Homo sapiens: one gene and its partners. The protein of the gene in region 3 interacts with the protein of the main gene of each other region in a pairwise test. Each region holds a gene or a part of one and is shown on either strand. Other genes may lie near its edges. The genes, in order: TBC1D21, PIBF1 and CFAP53.

Region 1 (3,231 bases), on a different chromosome or scaffold from region 3:
CAGCTAGGGATCATCAGGCTGGGCTCCACCCATCAGGCAGAGTGGAAGCTGCAAGTCTTCCTTGCCTCCCCCTTTCTTCCTGGCTTGGATGGAGTTCAGTATCTCGGGGTTTTGTTAGGTCAGCAACCCTGCTCCCACCTTGCTGGAGGAAGCTGGAGCATCACTTTGTCCATATGTTCATTTAACACAAAGGCCCCACTGACTGTGCCTTCTGCTAGCAGTTGACACAGGAGGGCCCTATGGCCTGTGCAGTGGGAGCCTGGGCCTGCAGCTCCACTTCCCCGCTGCCCTGCCCAGGTGGCCTCCCCACGCTTTCACTTCCCCAGCTGTCCCCCCAACCCTGGCCTTCCCCTTCCCCAGAGTGCTGCTCCTGTGGAACTCTCTCACAGAAGGTGGGTCCCTAAGGACACCTGTAGTCCTGTGACCACAATCCTCAGGGCCATCAGCAGATGAACCCTCTGAGGAATGCCACCCCCACCCATCAATGCCCTGCCCATGGCCACCGCTGCCTGCAGTGTCCAGCCCAACCATCCACCTGGCATGTAGGGCCCCACAGATCTATTCCCACCTGCCTCTTGGCTGGCTGGTCTCCATGCCCAAGTCCATGACCACACCCAGGCCTTTGGTGACATCCTTGGGTCATTTAATTCCCATCAACCCTTGCTTGCCAAAACCCCACTCAAATTCGACAGTTTCCTAGTGTCTTCCCACCCCTCATTGCCTCCCTCCCCTTCCTCTATCTAATGAATTCCCTGAAGCCTCTATCTCTGAAACCCCCAGGAGACAGCACAATGCCTAGAACCAGGAGTACCTGTGAGCACATGCCTGAGTGAGTGGATGAGTGAGTGAGTGAATGAAGGAATGATTGAATGAGCAAGTCAGCAGCAAGGCCCAGGAATGGCTGACTCCAGGCACGTGGTTGGTGGGTACCTCACCATCCTCAGGGCATCTGCAGTCTCAGACCACAGGGCCCAGACTGAGACGTCCTGACCCACAGGTTCTGCTGACGGGGAAGCCCTGCAGGAACTTCCAGGTGCTGGTGGCCTACAGCATGCTGCAGATGGTGCGGGAGCAGGTGCTGCAGGAAAGCATGGGCGGGGATGACATCCTCCTGGTGAGAGCACCCTCGGGCAAGCTACCACCCCTGCTCCTGGAGGCCCTGACACCCCACCCCACCCCAGCTGAAAGACCGGGGTTCATGGGGTGCTGGGCACCAGTGCCACCTTTTCCCCCCAGACAGAAAGGGCAATGAGATCTAAGGTACGGATTACCGTGCCAAGGGCTTTTAATAGAGCTTGTTTAAGCCTCACCACAAGCTTGACACAGGGAGGCTATAACCATCATCATCACCCCTAGTTAACACATGAGGAAATGGAGGCCTTGAACACTCCCTAACTATTAAGCTCTACCATCTCGCAGTTAACCCTGTGGCCCTAGGATATTGCTGAAACAGAAGGACCTAGAGTTTTCCACCATTTTAAAAAAGCTACTGAAGTCTTTGTTGGAAGAAACAAATCTTAGGTGACACCCTAATTATAAACCAAGTCCTCCTTCAAAGCCCCTAAGACACTTGGTGGAGCCCCAGGACTCCTAGAGCCTAACATGAAAGCTAACATTTACCATTGCCCCAAAATATCAAATTTTAGGCATTGAGCCAAGCAGGCTGGGGAGAGGTCAGGTGGTCCCCAGCGACTGCTGTGAGCAGCATCCTTCTTCCCTGGGTGCTGCAGGCAGCTGCATGTGCCCAAGAGTGCTGGGAGATGTTTGCCCCAGCCCCACCCACAACTGCTCCCACACTCCCATGCAGGCCTGCAACAACCTCATCGACCTTGATGCTGATGAGCTGATCTCTGCCGCCTGCGTGGTTTATGCTGAGCTCATCCAGAAGGATGTAAGTTGCCCCAATGATGTGTCCTCCTCCTCCTCTTCCTCCTCCTCCTCTTCCTCCTCCTCCTCCTCTTCCTCCTCCTCCTCCTCCTCCTCTTCTTCCTCCTCCTCCTCTTCTTCCTCCTCCTCTTCTTCTTCCTCCTCCTCTTCTTCCTCCTCCTCTTCCTCCTCCTCCTCTTCCTCCTCGTACTCCTCCTCTTCTTCCTTCTCCTCCTCCTCTTCTTCCTCCTCCTCCTCCTCCTCATCAGAGCCTATCCTGATCTCCCAAACGCAGCCCATGGCAGGTGCATTCAACTTCAGAGACACAGACTGTGCCACGTTCTCTACCACTGACCCATGCATGTTGCTCCTCATGGTCTTCTCGTTGTTTGCACATGTAGCTCCTTCCTCCCTGAGCAGGCTGTACTACTTGAGAGCAGGGCCCTCATCCCCCATTCCCTGTGTCCATCCCAGTGGGTCTGGGCACCCAGAGGCTCAGGAGAATGTCGCTGCTTAGAAGAACCGAAGAATGAAAGGGACAGACCAATGTCTGTGCACCTCCCACCTGCCTCCTCCCTAGGTTCCTCAGACATTAAAGGATTTCTTCCTCTGAGGACACCAAAGCCCGCAGTGGACTGATGCCTTCGATGGGCAGGATGAAGGCCAGGGGCACTGGAGTGAGGGAGTAGATAAAACAGCTGCAATATAAACAGTCCTCTGGAATAATGGTTTGTGGTGGATGCTATGTCTTTGACCTTAGGGGCTGGGACGCACATGAGGGCTGAGACAGGGTCGTACGATAGGAAGAGAGGCTGGCTGGCTGAGAGACACATTCTGAGACTAGGGAGGGTGCTTGCTGGAAGAGACTGGGTCAGTGGCTCCTCCTTGATGGAGGGTTTTCCAAGGCTGCGGTGGATCCATATCTGGATACAAATGGTTAGAGTAGAACCAGCTCTGAAAGGCTTCCAGACCCCTGTGGAGGACAAAACTGAGCACATTTAATAAGGATTAGTTCATCTGGACTTAGGTCCTGAGAGGAAGGCTGGTCCTGGGGCTCTGCCCCCACCCCCACTGCTCCCCTGAGTCCTGTCACATCAATCACACAATTAAGTCATTTTTTCCAGAGATTTCCTGCTAGTCTGTGGAAGGGGCTGGCCTGGAAGAACTATCTGATGAGCAGGCAATTCCCTTCCTGGTTTCAAAGCCTCCCTCATAATTGTGCCTTCATTTATCAGCCTGCAAATGTGTCCTCAAGCTACATTTTATTTTCCAGTCTTGATCAATCTTTCTTGAGAATGCACTCTTTGCCCTTGGCCAGGCAGTCAGTTGCTCTGTGAGGAAAAGGTGCATCACACCTGCTCCCCC
Region 2 (3,655 bases), on a different chromosome or scaffold from region 3:
AAACCTTCCCTTCTTTCTGACATACTCTGGTTTTTATTAGTAACAACATGTCCAGTTAGCTTCCCATCCCTTGTAGGTAGGGGTGGTCATGCTATACAATGTTAGTCAATTGAGGCCACTGGCTTGAACTTCTGGAAGAACTCTTTAAAGAGGACTGACTCATTTGGCACATGCCCCCTTTTCCACTATCCTTCTCCTTATTACCACCTTTTACATGTACACAATACTGGAGGCAGATAAGCTATCTTATGATTTCAGGTGAAAAGCATATGTTGAAAATAGCTAAGGTTAAAAGGAGCCTGGGTTCCTAATGCGATCAAGGAGTAATCACTTGAGGTCTACTAAAATACCTATTTTTGGATTTTTGTTATACCAAAGAAACAAAATCCTTCTCTTGCTTAAGCCATGGTTTCCAGGTCTCTGTTACCAGAAACCACCATTTTTCAAGTCTCTGGTATTAACTGCTGAACTTAATCCTTGAAACCCTGGGCAGTTGGTTCAATCTCTTTCCAAAATAGAAATACCTATAATATTTATTAACAGTTGACTATTCAGGACTACTTAAATGCTTCCAATGACAGGAAGCTCAGAAACTTAAGATCAGGCCATTTCAATGTTAATAGCAATAACAGGCTTACACTGAGCAGAAATCTACCTTTCCTGTGACTTCCAACCATTATCATGGAGCTATAGTCTAGTGAGGAAAATTTATTTTTCATAACGTTAGCATACGATGCTCAATAAGCTTTGGAGAATGAATGACCAATTAAAAATACCTTTCTTTCAAGACCTAGGCTTTAAGTTTCCTGCCCAGGCTAAAAAGTGTATGGCATGGCTGGGTGCAGTGGCTTCACACCTGCACTTTGGGAGGCTGAAATGGGTGGATTGCTTGAGGCCAGGAGTTCGAGACCAGCCTGGCCAACATAGTGAAACCCCCATCTCTACCAAAAATACAAAACTTAGCTGGGCGTTGTGGCACGGGCCTACAGTCCCAGCTACTCGGGAGGCTGAGGCACAAGAATCGCTTGAACACAGGAAGTGAAGGTTGTAGTGAGCTGAGATCATGCCACTGCACTCCAGCCTGGGCAACAGAGTGAGACTCTGTCTCAAAAAAATTAAAAGAAAAAAAAAGTATATGGCAGCACTACCAAATTGAGCCCCTTTCTTCTTCACTTAAAAATTCAGAGAGGATGCTACCAGATAGATTTGAATCAAATACCGCGTGGTGTTACCAGATCCATCAGGCTTTTGGGGACCCTGTTCATTTCAAAATACCCCATGAACCTTCTTTGCTTTCTTCTAGAGCTGGACCTCATTGAAACACCAAGAAAACAAACAGCTCTAACACCAGGAGTCCAATATACTTCTGAGTCCTCACAATCGACCAGAGGGACAAAATTCAGTGGGGTGTACTAGCTTTAGAATCACTGCTCACAAGAAACAGTGTAGCACTTTGTTCATCTGGAGTGCTTCACACATAAAGACAAAAATAAAGACATAACTAAACATATAATAACACATACAAATAAAGGTGTTATTTTAAAACATATAAAGAAATATGTCACATACCAATTTATACATAAACAAATAAGTGAAAAAATATATATCATGTGTGTAGTGCTGTTTGCCTGTCTAAGGTGTTATTCCCAGGGCATGTAAGAAGTAAACATATATATACACACATACACACATTAACATACATATACATATTCTTTAATAAAAATATTTTTTAAATATTCTTTCATCAACTCCAGACTCACACTTTCTCACATTTTAACATCTCTAAAATTGGAATGCATTTTACAATCTAAGGCACTTAACAATTCAACTGGAAGTGTTTAACCTTAGCAATGTATGTAATGATGCATCTTACAACAGAGGTGCTTTAGGTTCAATAAATTATGGAAGGCTAACTCTACAATAGGTATTTCTTCATATATTTGAGAGCAAACATCTTATTCCTAAAGAGTCTTCAAGCAGAGAATCCTGAGTGCTCGTATGATAGAGAAAAAAACTCTACTAATATACAGCAGGGCAGCTATTTTGGAGATAACCTGGCAGTACACTTAGTTAAATGAAGGAGACATTTATATATGTCAAAGACATGCTCACAGAGGTCCAGAAGAGAAATGTCTAATGCTGCATGTGTTGCAAGGAGCTGGAGGCAATCTGGATGCCTAGCAATGTAGGAGTAGAAAGACTGGTAGACGCACACAAAGAATTACATAAGAGTTGGAAGCAAAGGACTAGATGTATACAAAGTAATAGATAACTTCAAAAACAGTGCTGAGTAGGAAAAAAGAGATGAGAACTAAAACAAAGCATATAATTTACATTTCTGTAAAGTTAAAAGATACACATTCTCAAGAATACATGTAAACAAAACATTAAAATGTTTGCATTAAGAAATGGAATGAGCTATAGGAATGAAAAGAATAAATACATTAGAAAAACAGCAGCCTTTCAGGGATCAATGATGATTATGTGTCAAACTCAGGAACACGACTATTGCAATCTTCTACATTTTCAGTCAAACTAGAAAACCACAACAAAAACTACACTAAGCACCATGGAAGTAGAAAAATAATAATATTGTGCTGAGTAAGTATAGCTACAAATAAAATAATATGTAAATAATAAGTTTATTATTAGTATACACCAAGCATCTATGAGCTTACATACATTGATTAATCCTCCCGATAATTCCACGGAATAAATACTATTATCATTTTATAGGAAATCACGGAATAAAAACATTAAGGAATTTAGTAAGGCTGGAATTCAAAACCCAAACTGTGTGCATCTAGAACTGTAATTTGGATTTGTTACACTAGAGAGCCTGTCATGAATCAACCAACATTTCTATAATATAAAGCTTACACCTAAAAAGAAGCAAAGCCATTGACAACCAAGGACAATGCAAGTTGAAAACAAATAATACAAGAGGTGGCTGAACAAAATGTAAGTCTGGATATGGTATACAGGTGGCACTTAAAAAAATACTTGTTGACTGAGTGGGTGAATTAATGAATGGGAGATAACCTCAGGTTTCTTCAATGAGTTGCACTAAGGTCTGGAGAGGTGAAGGTAGATGGAGTTCATGTGAAATGCAAAAAGAGTAAGGGAATAGGGATGGGAAACCACTGGATGCATGGATAAACTACCAAGTGACCTAGACTAGGTAGGTGACTGTATAGGGTACCTAAAAGAAAGTGTTTGGAGCTTCACTTGTGTAGAGTATAGGCTTTAGACTTCCTAGGTTTGAATCCTATCTGGCTCTATCACTTTCATCTGAATGGCCTTGGGTATGCTATTAACCACCTAGTGGCTTTGTTTAATCAGAGCAAAATGGGGTTCAGTCATTCATTTAAGAAATAGCTGGGCACTTAATTTGTGTCAGGCACCGTTCTAAGTGCTGGAAATACAACCATGAATACAAAAACATCCCCGTCCTCATGGACCTCATAGTCTATTCACAGACAAATAACAAACAAATTCAGTCCGATGGCCATAAAAGGCACAGAAAATGAAAGGGATGAAACAGATAAGGATGCTATGTTAGTTGAAAACAACAACGGCTAATACGTCTTGTGTGCTTATTTTTTTTTCTCCCCTCAAAATTTGTATATTGAAACCTAATCACCAATGTGAGTAG
Region 3 (3,655 bases):
TGTTGCTCGGGCTGGAGTGCAATGACACGATCTCAGCTCACTGCAACGTCCGCCTCCCGGATCAAGCGATTCTCCTGCCTCAGCCTCCCAAGTAGCTGGGATTACAGGCATGGGCCACCATGCCTGGCTAATTTTTGTATTTTTGGTAGAGACGGGGTTTCACCATGTTGGTCAGGCTGGTCTCAAACTCCTGACCTCAGGTGATCCTCCTGCCTCAGCCTCCCAAAGTGCTGGGATTACAGGCGTGAGCCACTGCACCAGGCCAGGATTTACATTTTCTGATTTCAAACTTACTACAAAGCTACGGTAATCAAGACATATAGATTTGTTATACTGGACTAAGGATAGAGATATAGATTGATGGAATAGAACTGAGTGTCCAGAAATAAACCTTCACTTTACTGTAATTGATTTTTGACAAGGGTGATAAGACAATTCAATAGGGGAACAATTAGAGAATTATTTCAACAAATGATGCTGGAATAACTGGATATCCACATGAGGAATAATGAATTAGGATCCTTATCTCATGCCATATACAAAACTTAAAATGGATCAAAAGCCTAAATGTAAAAGCTAAAATTATAACACTCTAACAAGAAAACAAAGAAGTACATCTTTGTGATCCTAGAGTAGGTAACCATTTTTTAGATAGGACCCCTAAAGCATAAGCAACAAAAGAAAATATAGCTAAATTGAACTTTGTCAAAATTTAAAACTTTTGTGATTCAAAGGACATCATCAAAAAAGTAAAAAGACAACCTATAGAATGAAAGAAAATAATTGCAAGTCATTTATCTGGTAAGAGACTTGAATCTAGAAAATATAAAGAACTCTTGGCCAGGCGTGGTGGCTCACGCCTGTAATCCCAGCACTTTGGGAGGCTGAGGTGGGTGGATCGCCTAAGGTCAGGAGTTCAAGACCAGCCTGGCCAACATGGTGAAACCCCGTCTCTACTAAAAATACAAAAAAATTAGCCAGGCGTGGTGGCAGGCACCTGTAATCCCAGCAACTCAGAAGGCTGAGGCAGGAGAATCGCTTGAACCTGGGAGGTGGAGGTTGCAGTGAGATGAGATTGCACCATTGCACTCCAGCCTGGGCGACAAGAGTGAGATTTAAAAAAAAAAAAAAGAACTCTTACAATTCAATAATAAAAGGACCAATAACCCAACTAAAATATGGGCAAAGGACTTGAATAGACTTCTCTAAGAATAGAGAATAGCCTTCAAATAGACTTCTCCAAGGAAGATCTACAAATGACCATAAGCACAGGAAAAGAGGCTCAATATCATTAGTCACTAGGGAAATACAAATAAAAACCATAATGAGATACCAATTCAGATGCATTAGGCTGGGTAAAATAAAAAAAACAGACAATAACAAGTGTTGGTGAGCATGTGGATAAATCAAAACCCTCATACACTGCTGGTGGGAATGTAAAATGGTTCAGCCACTTTGGAAAACAGTTTGGCAGTTCCTCAAAACTTCAACACAGAGTTACCGTATGGCCCAGTAGTACTACTTCTAGATACATGCCCCAAAGAAAAATAAAAACATATGTCCACACAAAAATGTGTACATGAATGTTCATAGTAGCATTATTCATGATAGCCAAAAAGTGGAAATAACCCAAATGTCCATCAACTGACATAATGCATAAACAAAATGTGGCATATCCATACAATGGAATATCATTCAGCCACATAAACAAATAAAATAGTGATTCATGCTACAATGTGGATAAATCTTGAAAACATTATGCTAAGTGAAAGAAGACAGTCAACAGGTCACATAACATGTGATTCCATTCATATCAAAGTCCAGAATGGGGAAATCTATAGAGACACAAAGTTGATAAGTGGCTGCTTAGGACTGGAGGCAGGAGGTGGGGAAGAAGGGATAGCAGGATAGTGAAAATGTTCTAAAATAAAATGTGATGACAGCTGCACATATCTGTGAAAACAGTAAAATCCACTGAATTGTATGGTTTAAACTGGGGAACTGGATGTTATGTGAATTCTCTCTTGAAGCTGTTAAAAAAATGATTTAAATGTGAACAAAAAACTCAACAGGAAAAAGAAATCAAATAAGCAAGTCAATTAGATAATGGACAAAAACCAGGAGTTGGAGGCTGCAGTGAGCTATGATCATGCCACTGTACTCCAGCCTAAGTGACAGAGTGAGATACTGGCTCAACAAAAATTAAAAAAAAAAAAAAAAACAGAAAATGGGCAAAAGACATGAAGAGACATTTCATTGAAGAAGACATACAGATAGAAAACAGGCTCATAAAAAGTTGTTCAAAATCATTAGCCATTAGGGAAATGTAAATTAAACCACAATGAGATGTTACTACACATCTATCAGAATGGTTAAAAGTGAACAATAGTGATAGCACCAAATGCTGGTGAGGATGTGGAGAAACTGGATTGCTCATGTATTGCTGGTGGGAATGTAACATGGTATGGCTACTCTGAAAAACAGTTTAGCAGTTTCTTTAAAAAACTAAACATGCAATTACTATATGACATAGCAATTGCTCTTCTAGGCATTTATCTCATAGAAATGATGATTTGTGCCAGGTGTGGTGGCTCATGCCTGTAATCCAAGCACTTTGGGAGGCTAAGGTGGGTGGGTCACTTGAGGTTGGGAGTTTGAGACCAGCCTGGCCAACATGGTGATATCCCATCTCTACTAAAAATAGAAAAAATTAGCCAGGCATGGTGGCACACACCTGTAATCCTAGCTACTCAGGGGGCTGTGGCAGGAGAATCACTTGAACCCGGGAGGTGGAGGTTACAGTGAGCCGAGACCATGCCACTGCACTCCAGCCTGGGTGACAGAGCAAGACTCCGCCTAAAAAAAAAAAAAAAAAAAAGTGAGAATGTGTTCACAGAAAAACCTGTACTCAAATGATTATAGCAGCTTTACTCATAATAGCCATAACCTGGAAACAACTCAAATGTCCTTCAACAGGTAAATGGCTAAACAAACTGTGGTAAATCTATACCATGAACACTACTCAAGAATAAATTGGGAGGCCGAGGCAGGTTGATTACCTGAGGTCAGGAGTTTGAGACCAGCCTGGCCAACGTGGCGAAACGCTGTCTCTACTAAAAACACAAAAATTAGCCAGACGCAGTGGCACCCGCCTGTAATCCCAGCTACTCGGGAGGCTGAGACAGGAAAAGCGCTTGAACCCATGAGGCGGAGGTTGCAGTGAGCCGAGATCACGCCACTGCACTCCAGCCTGGGCAACAAGAGCAAAATTCTATCTCAAAAAAAAAAAAAAAAAAAAGAATAAAAAGAAGGCTGGGTGCAGTGGCTCATGCCTGTAAACACAACACTTTGGGAGGCCAAGGCAGGAGGATTACTTGAGCCCAGGAGTTCAAGACCAGCCTGGGCAGCATAGTGAGACCCCATCTCTACAAAAAATAAGAAAACTAGCTGAGCATGGTGGCTTGTGCCTGTAATCCCAACTACTCAGGAGGTTGAGGCTGAAGTATCAGTTGAGCCTGGGAAGTTGAGGCTGCAGGGAGCTGAGACCACACCACTGCACTCCAGCCTGAGTGACAGGGCAAGACTGTCTCAAAAAAAAAAATTAAAAAAAAAGAAAAAGAAAAAGAAACAACTATTGATAGATCCAAAAAGTTGG

What was found.
Region 1: the proteins of CFAP53 (region 3) and TBC1D21 interact in binary tests that used the Homo sapiens proteins (3 or more experiments, as listed by UniProt).
Region 2: the proteins of CFAP53 (region 3) and PIBF1 interact in a two-hybrid assay, tested with the Homo sapiens proteins (one large-scale study listed by BioGRID).

Annotation. Positions count from the first base shown.
Region 1 is NC_000015.10:73,886,623-73,889,853, forward strand, and holds the end of TBC1D21 (TBC1 domain family member 21), read left to right. Parts: intron 1-997; coding exon 998-1,114; intron 1,115-1,807; coding exon 1,808-1,891; intron 1,892-2,161; coding exon of another isoform or gene 2,162-2,383; exon of another isoform or gene 2,384-2,446; coding exon 2,447-2,479; 3' UTR 2,480-2,592; downstream 2,593-3,231. UniProt on the Homo sapiens protein: Acts as a GTPase-activating protein for Rab family protein(s). Essential for the establishment of male fertility, and is required for both the production of normal sperm number and sperm function.
Region 2 is NC_000013.11:72,785,130-72,788,784, reverse strand, and holds part of PIBF1 (progesterone-induced-blocking factor 1), read right to left. Parts: intron 1-3,655.
Region 3 is NC_000018.10:50,245,926-50,249,580, forward strand, and holds part of CFAP53 (cilia- and flagella-associated protein 53), read right to left. Parts: intron 1-3,655. UniProt on the Homo sapiens protein: Microtubule inner protein (MIP) part of the dynein-decorated doublet microtubules (DMTs) in cilia axoneme, which is required for motile cilia beating.